Linked DNA regions of Homo sapiens: all the other regions are linked to region 1. The links come from fine-mapping of genetic effects on gene expression. A gene starts in region 1. Each other region holds a variant in brackets. All regions are shown on one strand. Distances are between the middles of the regions.

Region 1 (4,334 bases):
TCTAATGGTTCCAGGATGGAGACAAAGGAGCATCCAGCTGTGCTCTCCTGTTCTCTGCAAGACCCAGAGCTCTGGGAGATGTTGGGAGGTAGAGGCAGTGCCCACTCCTGGATGCGTCAGCACTGTCACAGCTGATGGGACCGTGCCCTCAGTGGCGAGGCCTCCATCTCCCCTGTCTCCCCTAGGCAGGCCTCCCTTTTGTCTCCTGACTCCTAAGTCTCAGGGCAGTCATTTGGGGTGGTCGTTGCTGGGTTGGTGGGGCAGGGAGGAAATAGGCTGGAATCCAGCTGACCTCTGTTTTCCTGGTGATCAAAGGCAGAGGCCCTCACCACCAGCTTCCCAGAATGGGGTTCTCCAGCTCCGCCAGCTCTGGCCTTTGTGGGAGTTTACAGCCTTGAACTCCAGGTCCCCAGATCAGTTCCTCCTGGTGTTGGCTTGCAGCTGGAAAGGGGCTCCAATGAAGCAGAAGCCAGAAGCACCTAGAAAGCCATGACCCCAGGCCCAAGTCAGTCCTCAGCTGCATAACCCGTATGGCCACTGGGCAGGGAAAGTGGCAGTTCCCAAGCCCCATTTGTCCCACTCAGAGGTCCTGAATCCTGAGGAACGCTGGCTCCTGCCTCCTGCTATGGTTGCAGGTGCCAGGTCCCTGGGGTCTTATAAGGCAGGGCTGGAAGGAGGTGGGCCCCAGAGGGTCCATTCCTTAAGTGTTGGCTTCAAGAAGGCCTGAGCCATGGTGCACAGAGGTTCTGAGAACTGCCAAAGGGCAATGTACTCTGAGAGTCAAGGTCACCAGCTGGTGACAAGGGCAAACCCATTTGACCCACCTCCCCCACAGTGAATGCCTTGGAGAGAAATGCATTCTTGACTGTTCTCAGAACTCACATCCAGGCTTGAACCACAACAGAGCCCATTCCTCTCCAGCTTTTCTTGGTTTTCTCCTCCCAGTAACCAAACTCCCTCTCACCTCTGGGAGAGGCTCGCCACCTCCGGGAAGACCTCGCGGAGCAAGCCCACCCCTGGTTACTCTTACCTTCCCTCCACCACCTTCCGGATGCCACTGACATGGCTTGAATGGCCAGCATGTGGCCGTGTCACCATTCTCTTCATTTATAGCACAGATTGCCAAGTCCCTGGCCTCCTTGAGGCCTCAGGTCGGGTAAGCTGTTAAACGTTTGTACCTGCACTGAGCCTGGTGCCCACTCTCCACACTTGGCAGCAATTCCACCCTATTCCAGGGTCTCAGTGGTTCCAAAGAGCTGCTTAGAGCCTCCCAACAATTCAGCCAGGCAGGCTGTGAGATGCCCATTTTACAGAGGACACTGCAGGTGGTCTGCAAACAGGTCAGAACATGAACCCAAGTCTAACAGAGACAAGAGGAACCCGGCCATCAGAGAATGAGGAGACAAGGAAATGGATAGTGATGCCAACATTTATAGCATAATGGCTACATGGAGAATTGTCACGGTGCTTCGATGTCCATTGTATCACTTTGACCCTGTGAGATAACAGAAAACATCTTGATGCATTTATTTTATAGGTGATGAAACTGAGGCTTAAGTGGCTTTTCCAGGGTTACACAGTGAGCAGGAGGCCCAGCTTACCCCAAAGCTAGGAAGGACTTGATTATTCAGAAAAGGAAACTGACAGAGAGGCTGGGGTCTTTCCAAGCTCACACTGTTAGAGCAGAAGGGACCTCGGGGATGTTCTGAGCCTCAGGCTCTACCAGACTGCCTCCAAGCCCAGCTCAGAGGTAGGAAACCGTTCTTCTGGATAGTGCAGGGGGGCCCACCCCCTCCAGTCCCTGCCATCCAGGTCCTTCAGGACATGCGATCACAGCATCACCTGCTCTGCCATCATTGCCTTGGCAGGTGCCCCACTGTTGTGCAACCAGGCCCGGGGCTGGGCTGGCCCCATCAGATCAACAGCTGGTTGGCTTGAGCCGGCTGAGTCTGCCCCCCTGGAGCTCAGCTGTGACAGCAATAAATCACACTAATGGAGAGAGGTGGCCATTCCTTCTCTGTGGCCTGGAGACAGGTTTTTCCAAAGCTCCTCCCCTGGCTCAGGCAAACACACCTGACCTTTCTCTCGCTGGGCCCAGGGTGAGGCAGAGCAGCCAGGAACAAGGTGGGGTGAACCAGACAGAGCTGGAGTGCTCTCCCACCCCTGCTTTGCCCAGCCTCCCCGCCAAGCCCATGATTCCAAGCAAGGTAAGGCCCTCCTCCCAGAGGAAGGGGCCAACAGCCCGGTGACCTTGGAGTGTGCTTCGCCTGGCACTCCCCTCACACCGCTCCCTACAGCTTGTACTCTGCCTCTGACTCTCTTCCAAGAACAATTTGGCAAGTTCTAATCTACATCTTGCAAAAAAAAAACAAAAAACAAAAAACAGAGAGGTAGGAGGGCCACAGCACCTGGGGTCCCAGAAGGCAGACTGACCTATTCCTACAGCAGGGGTAAGTAACGCAGAAAACCTCCAGGCAAAGAGACATGGAGATCTTCGAAATGGAATGGGGGGTGGAGGGAGTCACTGGGAGGCAAAAGGTGTGGGACACCTGAGGTTACTGAGACAGGGAACTTGGGATTCCCTTCTGGGAAATGACACAGCATGGCAGCTGTCCTTCTTATTCAGTCAAGCTACATTGCCTCATTAAACCAAATCACAGCTACAAACCAGTGCCACATGCCTGGAGGCTGAGTGGACACTCCTGGTCCTCCTCATGGAGATATATAGCACTCTGAGTTCTGATCCAGCTCATCTGTGTGAAGTCCTCAAACAAGCACATAGTAAGTGCTCCATAAACTTCAGCTGCTCATTTTTTTTAATTATTACCATTTTGACCATCATTTCTTCGATTGTTCTTCATGTGTCTTGTTTCCAGACCATTAGACTCCCACAGGAGGCTCCTTGGAGCATGGTCCAGCTAGTTTATGTCTTGAAGGGGCAGCCATGCTCCAGGTGCAGTCTTGGGAGCCATCTGATCACTGTCCCTTCTTCTGAGCATCTGCCTGCTGAAGGAGGCTAGGCCATGTGCTGACAAGCACTATGGACAGACAGCCCGGGGTCAAGTCCTAGCTCCTCCATCCCCCAGCTGTGTAACCTGGACCAGGACGATTGTATCTCTGACCAATCTCAGAATATAGCTGGATTACTAGGAGGAAAACTAAGTGAGTGCTTAGAGGCGGGCAAAGTAAGGATAACCATTTGTAGATGATGTGCTAGAGATGCTGACCATCATTCCTTACTCTTAACATAATTATTATGAGAAAAATTAGAACCTCCTCATTGGACTTCCTTATTCCTATGTCGAAGTATAATGTTCTGTTTTTACTAACGTATGGGGGGCGGCACACACAAAGCTTTGCATGTCTAGGGCCTCTAGGGATCTCAGCCTGGCCTCGCTATGAAATTTCTGCAAGGCCTGTCAATTCCCTGATGTATCACGAGTGTTCCCGAACAATAAGCTCATTTACCAGGTCTTGCTGTGACCAGATAGTTTTTAATCGCCATGATCACTGGGTTGACAGGTTGAGCTTGAGCTCTACCATAAGCCTGTGTCTTTCCAAAGGCCTGGGGGACCGAAGGCAGAAGCAAGAGCACACGTAGAGAAGGCACCGAGCAAGCGGATCTGTGCGGTTCTTCGGTTCTAAACAACTTGCGGAATCCAGGCGGACTCAGGGCCTGTGTGGCCACTGGGCAGGGAAGGTGGTGGTTCCCAGGCCCATCGAAACCACAAGGAGCACTGACTTCTGTCTCCTGCTATAGCTTCAGGTGCCAGGTTCACTGGGGTCTTAGAAGTTGGGGCTGGAAGGAGGTGGGCCCAGAGGGTCCCGCTCCTTAAGTGCTGGCTTCAAGATGGAAGATATTAAGACGTTCCAGGGGTCGATTCTTTTTTCAAGACCCTAAGATGTTCCAGGCTTCTGTAGAGCAGGCACAGTCCTTGCCCTCCAGGAATTGTATCAATAAAGACACAAAACACTAGAGGCAGAAGCTGCACACAGGCAACCTCCACGCAGAATCTGCCCACATCTGTGTTGGTTTGGCCAACAGTGGTTTTTAGAAAGTTGAGTCAGAGTGTCTTTGGGAGGACACCGTAGGTGACTGCAGGTGCCATGCCCCATCGTCACTCCAGCAGATTCACATATTGGCATTACCTGCCTGGTCTCTACAGTCTGGATGCCAAGTATGAAGTGTGAATATAAAGGCAGCAAACAAGTGTGATTGGGGCACAAGAAAGGGATTCGGCTGGGCGCTGTGGCTCACGCCTCTAATCCCAACAATTTGGGAGGCTGAGGCAGGCAGATCACTTGAGGCCAAAAGTTCGAGACCAGCTTGGACA
Region 2 (4,334 bases), 68 kb after region 1:
ATTCTGTGCTTGTGGCTGGTGTGCCCCTGGGGACTATCAGCCCACTGGTGAATGGGGGTACAGAGGTGGAGCTGGGGATTCACCAGTGGGCTCATAATGTTTGAGGTCAATATGGTAAACACAGGAAAAGTGCAAAGCAAGAAGAGGTAGATCGTTCAGAAGAGGCCAGTGGGACCACCCATCCGATTCCCTTGGAAATAGCTGAGTAAGCTTTGGGGTTTCCTTGTCAACATGTCTGTTGTTGAGCCAGCAAAGGCAGAAGTAGAGGAAGAGGAAGAGGGTAAGAACATGCCCTGGAGTGCCCTTCCCCTGCCCCCACCTGCTTTGTGAAGGTTCATTCCAAACCTGACCTCCTCTGTGAAGCTTCCTTGACATCTCTAGGTGTGGCTGGTGGTTGCTCTGTGCATGTTCCATGCGTGGTGTCCACACTCAATCACAGCTTCTATCACATTGGGTCATGACCCAGTTCCTTGAGGATGCTGTCATGCCCTTTGTATCTTCTGGGCCTAGCATGTGTACCGGGCACAGAGTAGGCACGGATGCAGCTGGTGAATGGAATGAATACATGAATGTATGGCTAAATGAGCAGAACCCAAAGATGAGGAACCAAAACTAAGAACCAAAACCAAGAGTGTCTGGGCACTAGGGTGGGCAACCTCAATTTGTTACCTAGGGTACCAGTAAAACATCCAAAGACAGATGTCTCAGGTCACACAACTTTTATTGCTGAAGACCATCGCTGGCGGCTGCTGCAGACAGGAATGTGGCCTCCTTCCCAGTCTTGCTAACATTCCCCAGTGTACCCAGCCCCATCAGCCCCTGCCCAGCCTCTCCAGCTTGCTCTTCTGGGGCAGTCTTTCCCTTGAGCGGCCATGGCCTGCCTGAGCTGGGCTAGGCTGGGCTGATCTGCTTGGATCCTGCCTCTGAGAAGCACAGCACCACAAAAGACTCTGACGGGCCCAAGGAAGGTGAGGGGAGCAGGACTGGCAGAGGAATAGGTGCCCCAGAAAAAAGGCTGGGGAAGGCCCAGGCTTTTAGCTGGCGAGTCCAGGCACGTTGATGATTTGCAGGAACAGGGCCAACTTAGATCCTTCAGCAGGGCTGCCTGGAAGGCATGGGACCATGTTAGCTTTCTCTCCATAGCAGTTTTTATGTCATTGCTATGTTTCTGAAACAACTGAGAAACTGAAAGGTGGAGAAAGCTGAGAAGAAATCCCAAAGTCCCAGGACAGCTACTGGGAATGAGAGAGGCAGTCCACCTGGACCTCCCTGGGGCCCCTGGGAGCCTACGCGGGAACAGCATCTGTTTCTTAACGCCTTCGTCAGAGCCCTGGGATGCAGAAACAGTTTGTGGACCTCGTCGTGTCGGATTTGCTTGCCAGCCCAAACAAGGATTTGCTTCCCTGAGTATCTCCTAGGGGCTCCAGATGCTGTAGTGACTTGGGGGATGCCCATCCTGGGGACTTTGTCCAGTCTCTTCATCCAGTTCCTTGAGGCCAGAAATATTCTGTAGGACTCTAAAATACGACATTTCCCATGAATCCCCTGGGGGTCTTGGGCTGATTGATGCCAGCTGTCAAGGCTTCTGGACTTTTTGGAGAATCTTTAAAAATACCCGTATTTTCATTTCTTAAATATAAAAATAAAATAAAATAAAACCCGCCCCAGCAGCTTGTGACCAAATGAGTACAGTGAATCCTCATCTCAGTTGTCAGCCTGGTTAGCCACAGCACAGTCCGACTGGTGACATCCACGGCACCAGCAGGGGGTCTGGGTGAGGACTTGATGCTCATAAAGCCAACGGGAGCAGCTTTTCACCGAAGACGGTCCAGGCCCTGGGAAGCTGCATCCACCAAAACCCACGATCCATCCCAGGACAGCAATGGCGCCACCTGGGCCGCTGGCATCTGCCCACACTGGGCTAGTCTGTAAGTGAGGGTCAGAGAAGCAAGAATTCCCAGCTCTTCCTTGGGCTCTGGGCTCCACCTCCTCCATCCATCTATGGACACTCCTGTAGGAACATCCACGGTACTCAACTCTTGTCTCCAGGTAATTTCCAGCCTGGGATTTTGAGAAGAGTTGACAGCTCTGCTGGTTTCTGAAAAACTTGGGAGAGTGGCAATGCACACATAT[GCACACACACACA/G]CACACACACACACACACACAGAGGCAGCAGACAGTGGAGGTGGGAGTCCGATGGTGCCCGGTGGCCATTAGCCCAGATGATGCCACACATGGCCAGTCACCATGGCCAGAGTCTTCACAGCAGCCGGTGCTGTGCAGAGCAGCAGGCCAGCTGGTTAGGATTTTCTGAATCGCACCTCGCTCTGAGGAAGAGAATGGGAGAAGAGGGTGAGGGTGGGCCAGGTGGGCGAGGAGCACAGAAGCCCAAGGTTGGGGTTCAGAACCTATAATTTAGCCTCGCTGTCACCTAGCACTGCCTCTCCAAGGAGGGAGAGCAAAGGGAAAGGATGGATGCAGGATTGGAGGGCCTCTCTGCACTAGATTTCTGGAGCCTTTTCTGCTCCCCCTATCTGAGCCCTCCCCTGTTCCCCAGGCAGAGAAGGGGAGGGCTGGCAGAGCACCCCCTGCTTTACAGCTAAAGGCTGAAGGCCCAGAGAAGGCAGGGTCTCAACTAGGTCAGCAGAGTTGCAGGCAGATCCCTGTTTCCTGACACCGAAATTCCTGCCGTGGAGGGAGGCCTCCCATCACTCCACTGCCAGCGGCCTGTGTGAACTCACATCTCGGTCATCCCTGGGAGAGGAGAGTGGCACTGGGGCTGGCACCGAGGTGAGGCCCACCTTTTATTCTTTTCATTTATTTGTTTATTCATTCATCCTTAATTTATAACAATAAATAGTAAATACCGAGGATATTCCAGGCATTGTAAATGGCTGATTTTGATAGATTAGTCAGAGTTCTTCAGTAAGAAAAATGGAAGATGAGAGGGTGGAAGTGGGAGAGGGGACTCTCTAGGGTGGATCAAGTATTCCAAAGGCCAAGGGCAAGGTAAGGCACACACTGAAGGGTCTGTGGTTCAGTTTGACCTGAGCAATGACTTCTGAGGTTGGATATAGGTTAAAGCAAGTCAAAAAACATAAAATAACTTTTTATTATTTTATTACTTTATACTCTTTTATGATAGTAGTGAGGTTCTGATGAAATATTTTAAGTGGGAAAGGGAAAGAATGGTAGTTCTCAGGGAGCATTCTGGTGACAGCTGTGAAAGTTGTCAGAGTTAAAATGGAGTCACTTGTGTTTTTAAAAAAAGACAACAACAACAACAAAAAGAAAATCAAAAAGACTAAAACAAACAGAGCTGGGAAAGGCCATGAAGAGCGGATTCCCATGCATAAATGCTTGATAACAAAAACTATCACAAAATCCTCTGCAGAAACTGAAACGTTTTCAAAGTCCATTGCAACCTTACACAAAAAAATACTTCTGGGAGAACATCTGCCCAGCAACTGCCTGCCTGGCCTGTAGGTCCACCCTTTTTCAACCCGCTGAGCTCTGTTCTGAGGGAAGAAAAGCAGGGAAAGAAACACAGACAGCTGGGATTGACCCCAGGCATCACATTTGACCCTGTCCAGAACACCCCCCGAATATGGGGACGCTGAGGGGACCTCTGCCTACAACCTGGGTGCTCCTCCAGGGTCCCCACCTGAGGAAGTTCCCAGCCTGCTGGGTGCAGTGTCCTGCTGCAGGGATCTTACCTCCATCTTGCTGTAAATCCAGGGAAGAACTTCTGTCACTTTGGTGTACACACCAGGTTTGTTTCTCTGGCCACAGCCTGTGCCCCAGCTGGTGACACCTGCCAGGTACCAGCGGTTGTTCTGCTCACAGACAAGAGGCCCCCCGCTGTCTCCCTGCAGGGGAGAGGGGGCACATTCGCAGGATGGGACAGGTGGTCCATGAGCGGGAAAGGGTGGGGTCCCAATTCCCACATCAGCCCCAACACCCCTGCCTCCCCCATCCCCAGGGTGCTGGGACCTGAGCCCCACCCACAGGTACCCTCACCTGGCAGGAGTCTCTGCCCCCACGAAGGTCCCCAGCACACATCATCCTTGGGGTAAGGTAACTGTCATAGACCAAGTAGTCATTGCATTTCTTGAAGTCGATGAGATTGACCTGCACCTCCCGGAGGAAGGGGGATGTCTTGTCTTCAGTGAAGTGGGGTGGAGGAGACAGAGGATGGGAAGCCAGTGAGATTCTAGATAGCTTCCTGGCCGTCCAGCTGCCACCCCAAGACCCAGAATCACAGCCTCCTGGGAATGGAGGGTGCCATGCCCGTGCCTGGCTCCCACCCAAGGGAGGCCCTCTGTGGTTGGACA
Region 3 (4,334 bases), 30 kb before region 1:
GGAGCAAAGGGTCTAAAGCCCTGGGGCTCCGCCTGTACAGATGCAGTCTCTGGGGTCCCATTGCCCTTGTTCAGGCTGCTGTCTCAGCAGTGACACCAGGATGGTTGGTCAGGGGCTGCGGAAGCCCCCAGCAAGGCAGGAGTCCCCTGAATAACTGTGGCCTCTCTCCTGCTGTTCTTTCTCAGCTCACAACTCTGAAATCGGTTGAGAAGCCAACCCAGAGAGGTTCCATGTAGTCCGGATTCGACAGAGCTGAAGCTCATTGTCACATTTCTCTCTGGGGAGCAGTGGGGTGGAAGGTATGGAAACTAAGAGAGATAGGAAAAAAAAGAAAGTGCAATGAGCAGAGCTAAACTTGCTGGCTTCCCAAGTCTTCCGGCATTTCTTCTGGCCCATGTGTCACTCACAAATGTGCTTATCAAATTTTATGAAAGTGTCTTCTACACTGGAAAACCTTCACCTTTCTCAAGTACCCAGTGCCCCCCTTTTTCACCTGTTTAAGGCTTCCCATTCAGCAGGGCCTGGTCAGGCACCCCCAGTTTTCCCTGACCAGGCCTCCTCTGGTCTCCCACTGCCTCAGACATCTACTTGGCCCATGGGTCTCATCCCTTTGTCTAGAATTGTGGCTATTTAGGCATGTGTCTGACTTGTCTCCTCTTCTAGACACTGGGCTCCGACCCTTTCGATTTGTACCTGCAGGCCCTAGCCTGGTGCCTCCTGGCTCTAGGGGTACACTCAGTAAGTGTTGATTTAATGACCAGATGGGCTCATTCTTATAAGGTAGCAGATATCTGATTACAGCCTCACGTGCCATGCCTTCCAGAGAGATGTCCCTTAACTAGGATCAAAGCCTTAAGCTTGAAAGTTCTCGTATTGGAGTTTCTCGTCTCTAAGAGTGAGCATTTGGCAGGACATTAGACCCCGCAGGAGTGCTGACCCCTAAAACCAAAGAAGTCTCAGCAGTTCCTGCTGAGCCCGCATCACTGTGGTCTTCACAGTTGTCATCTTGACCTTGTAGGCAGCGCCTCTAGGTTCCAGAGGCTTTATGTTTTCGTCCATTTCTGATTCTCACCTAAAAGGATCTGGATACATATGCCAGAATTGTTTTGATCATTATATAGATGAAGACACAAAGTCAGAGGAGTCCCAGAGGCATATTTGGGATGTTTAATACCATGACACTTACACAGCTCAAGCTTCAGATTCCTTTAGGGCCCTAGTAATGTGTTCACATGGTCAGATATGAAAACACTGTAGAATAATAGAGTTTAACTACTGTCAATCACAGCTGCTACCCTTTTCTGCTCTGGCTTCTCGGTGGGTCTGGTGAACATTTTGGGGGGATCTGACTCTGGCTTGGGATTGGTGGAATGTATTTATATGGTTCACAGGCCATGCACGTACTTCCAGGATAGGGAATGGCTTGCAGGAACACTCCTATCACCGACTGGGCCAGCTCACTGCGCTTTGTGACATGAAGTTGCAGAACCAGAAGTTGTATCACAGTATAACTGTGGCCTCAGGTGCCTGCACCAGGGGTGTGTGTGTAGCATAGGAAAGACAAGGTTTGAAATGCATGGAGCCAAAAGCCAGCTTATGTAAAGCTGTGAGCAGAAGTAACGTAAAAAAATTTTTTTTAATTTAGAAAGCATTTTTGAGGTGTGTCAGTTAATACAAATATTATGTTATCTGTCTGGATTTCATGATGGCATTTGTCAGTTTTTTCAAGATTTGTAACTTGTTGCAATTTCTTTTTATCTTTCTAAATTAATAATCACATTTGATTATTAATATATTAATGATCATATTTGTATCTAATTTTGTATTCATAATTGTGTATTGTTTTCCTTAGTGAGGCCTAAGCTTCCAGCCCTCAATGGTCTAAGCTTCCAGCCCTGCAAAACCTGAATCC[G/A]TCCCAGGAACTTTCCTTGGGTTACACTGTGGCTGGGGACCAGGTTCTCTGGATTCTGGTCAGGGCTCCCCGCTTGCCTCAGAGGTCTTAAGTCTGTATGTCAATCATGTATTTGTACAGTGCTGTTCACACAGAAGCCCCCTTGGAGAGATTTTCCTCCCCAGAGAAGAGAAAGTCAAGGCCCAGGCCCATGGTGGTGACCTTGACTTAGATGATGAAAGTTCTCTTCCTAGAAAGTCTGCCCATTTCACCACAGGCTGGACTTGCCAGTCCATGCGCTGGAGGATCTCAGGATGGGAGACAACTTGGTGCTGCCGTAACGCCTTCCACGGTCTCTCTGCAGGGCAGCATCCCTCCTGTCACTGTGACTGGCCACCAGCATTGTGGACCGAGACCCTCCTCAAAGTCCAGGAGTTGCTACAAAACACTAGCAAGTCCTCCAGCCACTCTGAGCAGGAGAAATGTGCGGCCCAGAAATTCCACCTGCTGGAGGCCAAAGCCACGGCTCCTGGGGTGCCCCAGTGGTGAGTGGGCTGCAATTTGGGACAGTGAGGCTGAACAAAGACATTGCCTGGAGACCACGGGGAATGTTGGCCCCTCAGTTACAGAATCTGAGAGGGGGCAGTGCCTTAGAGCTCAGCTCACCTGGCCCCATCTCATACCCACTGGCTTTCTACACCGACCCAACAGGTGTCAACTCAGTCTCTCAAATGCTGCCAGGGAAAAGGGGCTTGCTCCCCACACAGAAGTTTATCTAATTTCACTGTCCACAGTCATGTACACATGCTTTTCTTTATCAAGCCCAAATCTGCCTTAGCTTTCTGGAGTTCAAAAGATGTGCCCAATCTGGACAAAATGACAGCTATTCAAATATTCAAGAACTGCTACCGCAGGCCCCCACACCTTCCTTTTGCCAGGCTACGTATCTTTTTTCTTTTCTGACATAATTTCTAGACCTTTCCCTATTCTGGTTTCCCTCTTTGCTTATATTCAACTTTAGCAATATCTCGTCCGGGCATGGTGGCTCACGCCTGTAATCCCAGCACTTCGAGAGGCTGAGGTGAGAGGGTCACTTGAGCCCAGGAATTCAAGACCAGCCTGGACAACACATGGAGACCCATCTCTACAAAAACATTTAAAAGTAGCCAGGCACGGTGGTGCATGCCTGTAGTCCCAGCTACTCGGGAGGTTGAGGTGGGAGGATCTTCTGAGCCTGGGAGGCTGAGGATGTTAGTGAGCTGTGATTGTACCACTGTGCTCCAGACTGGGTGACAGACTCTGTCTCATAAAAGAAAAAAAAAATCTCTCTTAAAACAGAATAGACTCATGAATCCGGATGAGGTCTGAGCAGCTCCAGTCCAGCGCCATCACCCCCTCAGTAGGTAGCTGATCTTCTCTTACTGTTGTCCAATGTTTTGTTGGATTTCCTGGGCTGACATGCCAATCACTCTGGACCACTATCCCACGAACTTCTACTGAACTGGCCTCCTTGGCCTGTAATCCTGATGTGGATTATTTGAGAGAAAACATGATCCCATTCATCATTTGGTGAAAGTTGGGAAATGGGGTGTTGCCTGGGTCAAATGGCACTTACTTACACAATGGGTGACTCAGAATGTCATCTAAGGTCCTAGCCCAGCCCCAGTGAGGGTGGCAGAGCTCAGCTAAGAATGCAGCAATAAGGTTCCCATTTCAGGCCACAATGACATTGAAACCCAGCATCTTTACCAAACTTGACCTTATTTTTGATAAATCCAGCAGAAAACAGAAAAAGATCTAACATAGCATTTCACAAGTGTTTCATGAGAAGGTAATAGGTAAGGTGCAAAAACTGATCTATGGTCAAATAGGTTTGGAAAACAGTGGAATAATCAAAGGTAAATAGGTTTTTGTGGGAGTTGTTTTTGTTTTTGTTTTTTACTGCAGGCTTTAACACGCTGGTGGGCATTGTCAATCTCCAAGTGCTACAGTATGAGGTTTTGGGGGATCCATTTCCCACTTCTCCTGGTTAAAAACTCTGTTCTTTCACTGTTTCTGGTCCACACCTGGCCTAAAGGAAGTACATTTTGTTGGTTTACTCATTCTTTTGGCAACTCTGTGCCCAGCCCCTGTGCAAGGAGTTCCCCGATCCCTGGAAAGTCTAGCACAGAGTCCCTGCCCTCAGGAAGCTTGCATTCCAGTGGAGTAGAAGATGTTTAAAGAGCAACACAGGGAAGCCTACATGCTCAGAGTCAGCAGGTCAGAGTGTGAAGGGACCTGGGGAGCATCTCCTGCAAGTGCCTAGGAAACAGTGGCTGGCAGGTGAAGGGCGTCCCAGGTCACATGGCAGAGTCAGGGCTTAGGTCCAGGGCTCCTGACCGCCTGGCCTGCGCTCAGCTAAGTGGTGTTTACCTCCCTCCTAGGCCCTGTTGCCTTCAGACTC
Region 4 (4,334 bases), 21 kb after region 1:
TCCACTTCCTTCTCTATGCTACATTCCAGGTAATTATTTCATATTTGTTTTCCATTTTCTGACTTCCTTTTTAACTGTTTTTATTTGCTGCTTAACCCACTCATTTACTTTTGTGTTTCAATGGTCATATTATTAATTTCTAAAGGTTCTATCTGGTTCTTTTTGAAATTGCCTGGGCATTTGTGTTAGTCTTTGTTGTTCACTCATTTTGTGTTCTCATCTCTTATTCTTTCAACATTTCTTACAGTTATTTTATATTCTGTATCTGATAATTCCAAACTCTTAAATCCTTGGGGGTCAAAATCTACTTTTTGTTTCTGTGCCTTTCAATCACAGTGACTTGTTTTTTCCTGTGTTTGGTAATATATTCGATTGTGAGCTCATATTTGCTAGATTTTAATCTGTGGGAAATTGGTAGTCCTAAAATGGGACACTTTCTTTCAGAGAGCATTTGCTTTGCTTTTTCATGGAGGCTGGGGGCAGCAGATACCAACCTGAGATCACTTTAGCCCCTCTCAAGGGTTCTTGGCTTCATGCAGGTAGTCTCAGGTTTGGCTTCCCAACCTTGCTGGACTCAATGCTGATTAGCCTACAGAATGCAGTAATGTCAATGAGGGTGCATTCTAAGAGTAACTATGGCTTAAGTTCTGGCTAAGCTTCACATACTCCAGTGCTAGTTTTTGTTTTGTTTTGTTTTGTTTGAGATAGAGTCTCACTGTGTCACTCAGGCTGGAGTATAGTGGCACAATCTCGGCTCATTGCAACCTCTGCCTCCTGAGTGATCCTCCTGCCTCAGCCTCCCTAGTAGCTGGAACTACAAGCATGCACCACCATGCCCAGCTAATTTTTGTATTTTTAGTAGAGACAGGGTTTCACCATGTTGGCCAGGCTGGGTCTCGAAATCCTGACCTCAAGTGATCCTTCTGGCTCGGCCTCCTTAAGTGTTGGGATTTCAGGCATGAGCCACCATGCCTGGCCCAGTTATCTCATGGGGTTTTTGTTTTGTTTTGTCTTTTTGGTAGTGTTTGGTGTGGGGAGAGTAACGGTGACTTAAGATTGGATGATTTTCATTCCTTCTTTAAACCAAGCTGTGTAATAGTAAACCTGGGATTAATTATTTTAAAGTGGAAAGTCCCCTTATGATTCAGGCAGTCATACAGTCCTAAAATATCTTCAATCAAAGTATGAAATAAGGTAAGTTTTGAGCATCTGCTATCTGTAAAACACCTCCCTCCCTCCCTCTCTCCTTCTCTTTCTTTCTCCAGTTTACTGCTGCTTCCTAGCCCAAGTCCCATCTCCAAATTACACCTGCTCCTTGCTTAGCCAGTGAGGAGGGAGACTGGAGTCAAGATGTGGAAGGTAGATGAAACAACACATTAAGGCCTTCAAATCTTAGGGGCCATGGTGTGAATATTGGATGTGAGGTGAGAGAGGGAAGGACAAATGGACCAGGCTTCCCACAGTGGCCTCTTGACCAGCTCTAGCCGGAAGAGGGAGTGCAGTGTTGGCAATAGGGCTCTTCCTGCCCCCTGGGAATAGGGAAAGCACATGTCAATGGCTCTGGGCCACCAGGGACAATGGGCAGCAGTTCAGGTTGCTGCTGTGCCTTCCCTTCAAACCCCAACAATCACCTCCATTGATGCTCAGGTTCAAATCCATTACACAAGCCAACACTGAACTCCTAGAAAGGGCCATACTATTCTGGGTTCTGCAAAGGATAAGTAGGTGAACAAGATACAGCCTTAGCTACCAAGGAGAAGTAGGATTTGGTGGCAAAGGGCTCTGATCCATCAGCAAATATGAC[G/A]AGAACTTCCCAACAGGTACAGACGCCATGCAACAATAGTCCAGAAAGACAGAGAGAAGGGGAGCAGAGAGCTCAACAGGGAGCTAGGGAAGTTTCCGTGGAGGAGCTGACATTCCAGCGGAACCTTAAGAGCAGGGTAGGATTTTGATAGACAGGGGGAAGGAAAGAGCAGAGGAAAGGCATTCCGGTAGAGAAGACAGCATGAGCAAAAGCAGTGAGAGGGGAAACAGAGAGTAGGAACAACAAATGGGATTCAGCTCAAGTTCAAGATCAGTTCAAGATGAGCCTTAACGCATTTCATGCAGTAGTAACTGTCCAAAGTGGCTTCCCCAAATGAGGTCCAACAGGAGACGGCCTTCATCCACCAGTAATGTCTGCTTAGCCTAGGAGGGGGCTGTGACAGCAACCTACCAAATAGCTGCCATTTCTAGTGTAAGATATCTTCCAAAACAGTGAACAACCCAGTTGGACTAAAGCATGATGGGGTGGGTGGTGAGAACTCAGATAAGATGGTTGGAATCAGATTGCAGAGGCTCTTGAGTGCCAAGCTAAAGAGTTAAGACCTGCCTTTGTATTCTAAAGAAAACATTTCTGATCAAGTGACAGTGTGAAAAGAAATACTGTCACAAATTTGAAAAGTGACCCATTCTCTACTCCTGCAAGCTGCTGTCCCAGCCTGGGCTACATCAACCACACCTCAGCATGGGCCCCTCGGGGTGGCGGGAGCGGGGAGGAGGGGGGCCTAAACCCATTTTTAAAAATCTCATCGGTGGTACGTTGGCACTGCCCCTGAGTCGAGTGGCCAAGTACATACACAGAACTTTTGAAGGGCCACAGAATGCCTTTGTCTCACTGCTGCACCCAGCTTGGCTTCCCTTCCATCTCATATACCACCCCTCTGCACCTCCCACCCTCCCAGTGACCACACATTCCTTTCTCCCTCCTTCCAGAGAGGAAGCTGGGCTGCTGGAGGCTGGCTGGGGTGGGGAGGGTAAGAGGCTGGGTGGTGAAAAATCTCAGTTCCGGGCGAGAGATTCTAAGGAGTAGATGGAAGACAGGAAGGAGGAGTCACTGGGGGAAGGAGATCCAAGGCTGAAGTGAGCGGAGAGGGCACAGGAACAGGGCATGCACCGCCACCTGCGCACTGGGCCCTGGACCTTTGCCTGGGGGCCTGAGGACCTGGCTCGCCAGCACAGGGGGCCTGAGAAATCATCACTGCTGGAGTGGGGGACTCCCTGGCTGCTTCACTCTCTTGCTCCCCAACTCTTCCCCTCTAGACCATTTGGACCACTCTCCCCATCTGGAGAATGGAACCAATCACACGTTGCTGCCTCCTCTAGGGTGTATTATGAGAACGAATTCTGTTTCCGCTCATTTTTCCTCTCCTTTCTGTGCTCTTGTTTATCTCCATATTGGCAAGCAGCTGAGGTTCTGGGTGGAAGCAGCACTTCCATGTTAATTTTCCTCTCTGATCCTCCTGCTTGGTTGCTGGCTGCATGTGCGGGAGAAAGCAATCAGAAGAGTTTCTCCGGCAATTATCTTCCCATACTGAGTCACATAATTTCACTTAATTGCTGGGTAAAAACTGCTCAGAAAGAGAAGCCACTAGTTGATGATATAGCAACATGCTCTATTATTTTTGATTCCACGCAGCAGTGAGGTAGATCAGAATACCCAGTTCCATTGTGAAAATAACTCAGAAACAACCTCCCTTGAAAATGCAGAGGCTCCAAATTACAGTGAAACTTCATTATCTCATCCTCATCCCTCCCTCCCCCTGCTCCCGAAGCTTCACTCGCCTCCCCTGGCATCCCACCTGCTTGCCTTCCTGCAGGCTCAGCCCACGGATGACAAGCTCTGAGGGGTCACCGGGCCTGGGTCTTAGCAGGATGCCCTGCTAAGAAAGATGAGGTCTCACTTCATACAGAACGTCCCGGAATGGGGCCTTTTATGAGGCCGCAGAATGCCTGGGCCCCACAGTTTAGTCTAAATGGTTACCCTAGACTATTATTATATGCAAAGGGATATGATTTAGCCTATGACGTATCTAGATCTTTGCAACCAAGAAGTCTATTAAAAAAAGATTCGACTGTGTATATATTGAGTATAACCAAGATGTGAGGTCTACCAGATGGAGTTAGCATCACAGAATTCATCACAGTTGGTTACAGTGATTGGGCTCCTGCTTTTTATTTGTGAAAATTGGGGCCCAAAGAGAGATGAGGTACCTGATTCATCCAGTTATTTAGGGGCAGGGCAGGGCTCAGAACATGCATTTCCCACTCTTGACTGCTGTTTTGATGTGCTGGGATTGGGAGGTGGGCAGAACAGGGCTGGCAGAGCAGTGGCCAGGAGGAACAGAGGGAAGGAAGGCTGAGCCCACCCCAATGCCAAAGGGAAGGGGGGTAGCCTGGCTGGAGCCAGGGAAGAGGGCGAGGCCCTGCAGGAATGGGGTGGCCAGGGACATGAGAGGGCAGGAGGGAAGCCACTGCCACTGATAGCCTCCTTGGATTGGAGATGGGAGGTGACA
Region 5 (4,334 bases), 28 kb after region 1:
GATACAGGCCAGGCACTATTCTTAGTGCTTTAAATGCTTATTCTCACTTAATCCTTAAACATAACCCGATGCTAACACTGATAATGTGCACCTGTGGCCCTTTCATGAAATCCAAGAACTAAGGAGGCCTTAAAAAGCCTTCAGAGCCAGTCCCTTGTCTCCAAAAGCTCTTGCTTAGCACAAATAAATCAAACTGTCCTCCCCCTATTTTCCTTCCAAACAGTAAGACTTGCTAAGGTCTTAGGAATATAAAGATCCCACCTCTCTCCCAGTACATCTGACCAGTCTGTCTGTGATAATTTTTAGTCCGGAGCTTCCCTGTTTTCATCCTTAGTCTGGTCGTACGCTACTCAGATCCACGCTACAGCAATAGCCACCTGCACCAAGCTCACCTTACCGCACAGCTGGGGTCATGGGAGAGGCCTATTCTCATCACCTGCTTGCTCCCCTGTGTGAGAGAGTGAGGAGTTGGGCTCCATGTCTGCCGAAGGCCTTTTGTTATCGTCAAAAGCATTTTACAGGGAAAGAAACTGAGGTAGGGAAAGAGAGGTGCCCTGGAGAATAAGTGCAGGATTCTGGACTTCAGCCCTGCTCTGTCTGCCTGGCTGTTGGTGGAGGGCAGGGAGTCTTCCTGCTATGAGTAGGTTTCCTTCGATCCCAGAGCCAGCCCCAAACTCCAGCCCTTGGGCCCCACCTCACAGGGAGGGATCACATCCATTTGGGGGCAAAGAGCCATGAGGGGCCACCTGCACTGTGGCTCTTTGAAGGGCCCACCTTTTCTAGGTAGCTGCCACCCTGTTTTCTCATTCCCATCCCAGTCCAGCAGGCTGAGGCAGCGAGATACAGGTACCTGAGAGAGCTCTGCGCAGAGAGCCACAATGCAGGGGCTCCCGCATCTGGATGAACATTTACCAAGCTTCCAGCATCTCTAGCTTCATACATATTCGTGCGCTAGAGAGACAGCAGAATGTACAATCCTGCCAGCTCACCCCTGAGAAAGCATTGATACTCACTTGTTGAACAGAGAGCTGTTTACTCGGGTGGGGGATTTTTAAAAACAGGCTACGGAACCCTGAAGCTGATTAGGCCGAGGGTGAGAGCATGGGGTGCGGGCAGCGCAGAATCAGTGCAGAATCTGCCAGTCCGTTCCCTTGTCCACTTTCCAAGGCTATGATCAAGGTCAAGTGAGATAATAGGTGTGAAGGTTCTTTGTAAACTGTAAAACACCCTGATAACAACATGTAACATTCGTAAGGTGCTCATGCCATACCAAGTGTTGTTCTAAATAGTTATATAACTCATTCTACCCTTACAATAGTCCTAAGAAGCAACTATTATTACGATCATTCCCTTTACACAGACGGGCAGACTGAGGTGAGAAAGATTAAGTAAGCTGCCCCAAATTCCAGAGCTAGAAAGTAGCAGAGCCTAGATTCAATCCCAAGCAACCTGGCTCCAGGGTCCTTGCTCTGAGCACTCAGCTCTCCCTCCTCTCTGCCACTCAGTGGCTCTGTGGCCTCGGGAGCGTTACTTGGCTTCTCAGAGTCTTGGCTTCTGCAACTGCAAGATGGGCCTAACAGCATGCATCTCGGGATCAGTGAGGGTCAGATGAGGTGGTCTTTGTGCCCACATCAGTCCCCTCTTCTGTGAATGACATCCCCTTTTGGAAGGGAGCCTGCTCTGTCCCCACTCGAACCCTGCTGGTCTATGGGAGCCTGCCAATCTCAGCTCCTTCCCTGTAGCTAA[A/T]AGACATGGTAGGAAAGACCTCAGCATCCTGCCGGATGAAAGGAGGAGGAGTCTGTTGGGGGAGAAGTCGGCCAATAGCTGACAGGTACAGAGCTGGCAGGGGAGAGAGGCAGGGAGGAGGGGCCCAGAGAGCTTCCTAGCTGTGCCTCAGGCTCCTGTGTTCCCACACCAGAGGGCCCCACCCTTCCCGAGTCTGGCTCTGTAAACTGATACCCCTGCTTCAACTAAATTAGATGGAGTTCTGTTGCTGTCATTTGCAATGAAAAGAGACGGCCTGTGGACGGAGCTGAGTGCAGCCTGGCGAATAGTAACTGCTGGTGAAGCATCACCTGTTAGTATCATTACTGTATCACTGCCCAACTCTGTCCTTGGCTTCCTCCTTCATTTCTACCTTTTCCAGGAAAATGGAAAGATAAACAGAGATAGGGGCTAGGGAGAGGGCCCAGTTACTTCCTCCCCCTTCCCTTCCTTTTAACATTGTCCTCCAACCACTGGAAGGCTCCAGGGTCCTCGTGTGGTCACAGGACGTGGAGGGTCCTCGTGAGGTCACAGGATGTGGAGGGGCCTCGGCCCACAGCTGACACTGGCTCCCGGCCACTGCCTTTTCCTGCCTCAAGACAAACATCCTATGTCATCCAGAGCTGCAGATATGTGGCCCAGGGAGGACACATCTGGCTGGGACAGCTAAAGCAAGGGACACATCTTCCCAGGCCCAAACTGAGGGCACCCCCACGAGAGACACAGAAGCAAGACAGACAGAGGACATGAGGCAGCAGGAGAGGAGAGAAAACCCGGAGGAGGAGAAACTGAAAAGGCGATGCCCCAGAGGAAGTGGGAGAGGCAGGCAAAGGAAAGAGAAAGAAAGAGGCTTCGAGACGGGAGAGGCTGGCCCAGGGGCCAAGTCCCCGCAGAAACTGAGCTGGAAAATGGGAAGGAGGGACACAGGTGGTGAAGCCAGGAGAGGTGGAGGCTGCTGAGAGAAGAGAATTGGCTTTAGAGGAAGCATCAAGCAAGCCCTCACGTCATCCTCCTCCTTCTGAGGCCTCGGCTGCCCTGGGTGCCTCCACCATGCCCTAGGTGCCTCCACCATGCCCTGCGTGCCCCACTCACACAGATGCACCTAAAAGCAGAGACAGGAAAATGCACCAGGGCAGGGTATGAGAAGGAAAAGTCAACAGACAGCTGCTGTTCCTGGGAGAAAACAACTCACGCCCTTCCCTGGCTACAGGGCCGCTGCCCAGAAGACACAGTGTCTCTGCTGGAAAGAGACCAGGAGCTGCGGCTATCCCAGACCGAGGCCCAGCCCACAAGGTCCTCAGCCACCTCCTCTGGTCACCATGCCCAATCTTCTTCCTTCACCAAGGTCATTCAAGGAGAAGCCACTGCCTCCCACAAAGGGCCCCTTCAGGGTATCTCTCTAGAAGGGTTGGGCCCTGAGACACACAGGCAGGGCCAAATGGACTTCTGCAAAACCAAGGTGCTGTTCCTAAGATGGCCCTGTTCCTCCCTCCTCCTTGGGTTGAGGAGGTCACGGCAAGATGTATCAAGATAGGAACTCTTGTCCCTCAGGCCTGGGCCCTTCAGTGTATCTGTGACTGTCAAAAGAGAAAGGGGAGCTGCTGTGTCTTACATGTTGCATATTCCTGTTCCCTGCCCACATTGGTCAAAGGGGATGATGATGATGATGATGATGATGATGTGATGATGTTATACACCAGTCATTTATAAGACACCTTATTCACCAGATAACATTACAAGCATTAGCTCAAAGAAACATCACAACTCCATGGGATGTTGGTTATTACTGCTATTTTACAGATTAGAAAAGGAGAGGCTCAGGCTTATGCTATTGCCCAAGGCCCAACAGCTAACAAAAGCATACCTGGAACTGTCACTAATTCTGCTGGTGCCATGCACCTTCCACTCTTTCTTGCTGCCTCCCTGGCACATGTGGAAATGGGCAGGAACTAAGGGAAATAAAATTGGAGGCCCCAATTTATTCCTGGAATGCAAAAATGTTTCAACATATGAAAATCAAGCAATATAATATACCACATTAGCAAAACGGAGGGAAAAAAAACCACACGATCATCTCAATTGATGCAGAAAAAGCATTTGACATCAACATCCTCCCATGAGGAAAACATTCAACAAATTAGGAATAGAAGGAAACTACCTCAACATAATACAAGCCATAAGTTTAAAAAAAAAAAAAACCCACAGCAAACATCACACTCAATGGTCAAAGACTTAACGCTTTTCCTCTAACATCAGGAACAAGGCAAGGATATCCACTTTCACCATTTCTGTTTAACACAGTATTGGAAGTCCTAGCCAGAGCAACTATGCAAAATAAACAAATAAGTAAAAGGCATCCAAATTGGAAAGGAAGAAGTAAAATGATCTCTGTTCACAGATGGTATCATCTTATACATAGAAAACCCTAAAGATCACACATAAAAACTGTAAGAACTAATAAATTCTGCAATGTAGCAGGACACAAGGTCAACACACAAAAAACAATTGCATTTCTATACATTAACAATAAAAAATCTGAAGAGGAAACTAAAAAACAACTCCATATCATA

The links. PIP is the estimated chance that this variant, and not a neighbour inherited with it, causes the effect.
Region 2: its variant is fine-mapped to the expression of FXYD6-AS1 in whole blood (INTERVAL, PIP above 0.99).
Region 3: its variant is the best candidate, but not a certain one, in a credible set for the expression of FXYD6-AS1 in whole blood (INTERVAL, PIP 0.54).
Region 4: its variant is the best candidate, but not a certain one, in a credible set for the expression of FXYD6-AS1 in whole blood (INTERVAL, PIP 0.53).
Region 5: its variant is the best candidate, but not a certain one, in a credible set for the expression of FXYD6-AS1 in cerebellar hemisphere (GTEx, PIP 0.57).

Annotation. Positions count from the first base shown.
Region 1 is chr11:117,831,612-117,835,945 of GRCh38, forward strand. It overlaps FXYD6-AS1 (FXYD6 antisense RNA 1), which reads left to right and starts at 2,107. Exons shown (of 3, transcript NR_186291.1): 1 at 2,107-2,450. The region is part of intron 6 of FXYD6-FXYD2 (FXYD6-FXYD2 readthrough); the gene reads right to left.
Region 2 is chr11:117,899,939-117,904,272 of GRCh38, forward strand. It overlaps TMPRSS13 (transmembrane serine protease 13), which reads right to left. Exons shown (of 13, transcript NM_001077263.3): 11 at 4,021-4,163; 12 at 3,717-3,869; 13 at 703-2,327. The coding sequence ends at 2,301. Among named protein-coding and RNA genes, the nearest start is that of FXYD6-FXYD2, 25 kb to the left of the region's middle. The variant GCACACACACACA/G (reference allele first, on the strand shown) is at 2,134.
Region 3 is chr11:117,801,728-117,806,061 of GRCh38, forward strand. It overlaps a transcript of DSCAML1 not described here. Among named protein-coding and RNA genes, the nearest start is that of DSCAML1, 6.7 kb to the left of the region's middle. The variant G/A (reference allele first, on the strand shown) is at 1,913.
Region 4 is chr11:117,852,815-117,857,148 of GRCh38, forward strand. The region is part of intron 1 of FXYD6-FXYD2 (FXYD6-FXYD2 readthrough); the gene reads right to left. The region is part of intron 1 of FXYD6 (FXYD domain containing ion transport regulator 6); the gene reads right to left. Among named protein-coding and RNA genes, the nearest start is that of FXYD6-AS1, 21 kb to the left of the region's middle. RefSeq lists an enhancer at 2,928-3,428. The variant G/A (reference allele first, on the strand shown) is at 1,805.
Region 5 is chr11:117,859,529-117,863,862 of GRCh38, forward strand. The region is part of intron 1 of FXYD6-FXYD2 (FXYD6-FXYD2 readthrough); the gene reads right to left. All of the region lies in intron 1 of FXYD6 (FXYD domain containing ion transport regulator 6), which reads right to left. Among named protein-coding and RNA genes, the nearest start is that of FXYD6, 15 kb to the right of the region's middle. The variant A/T (reference allele first, on the strand shown) is at 1,747.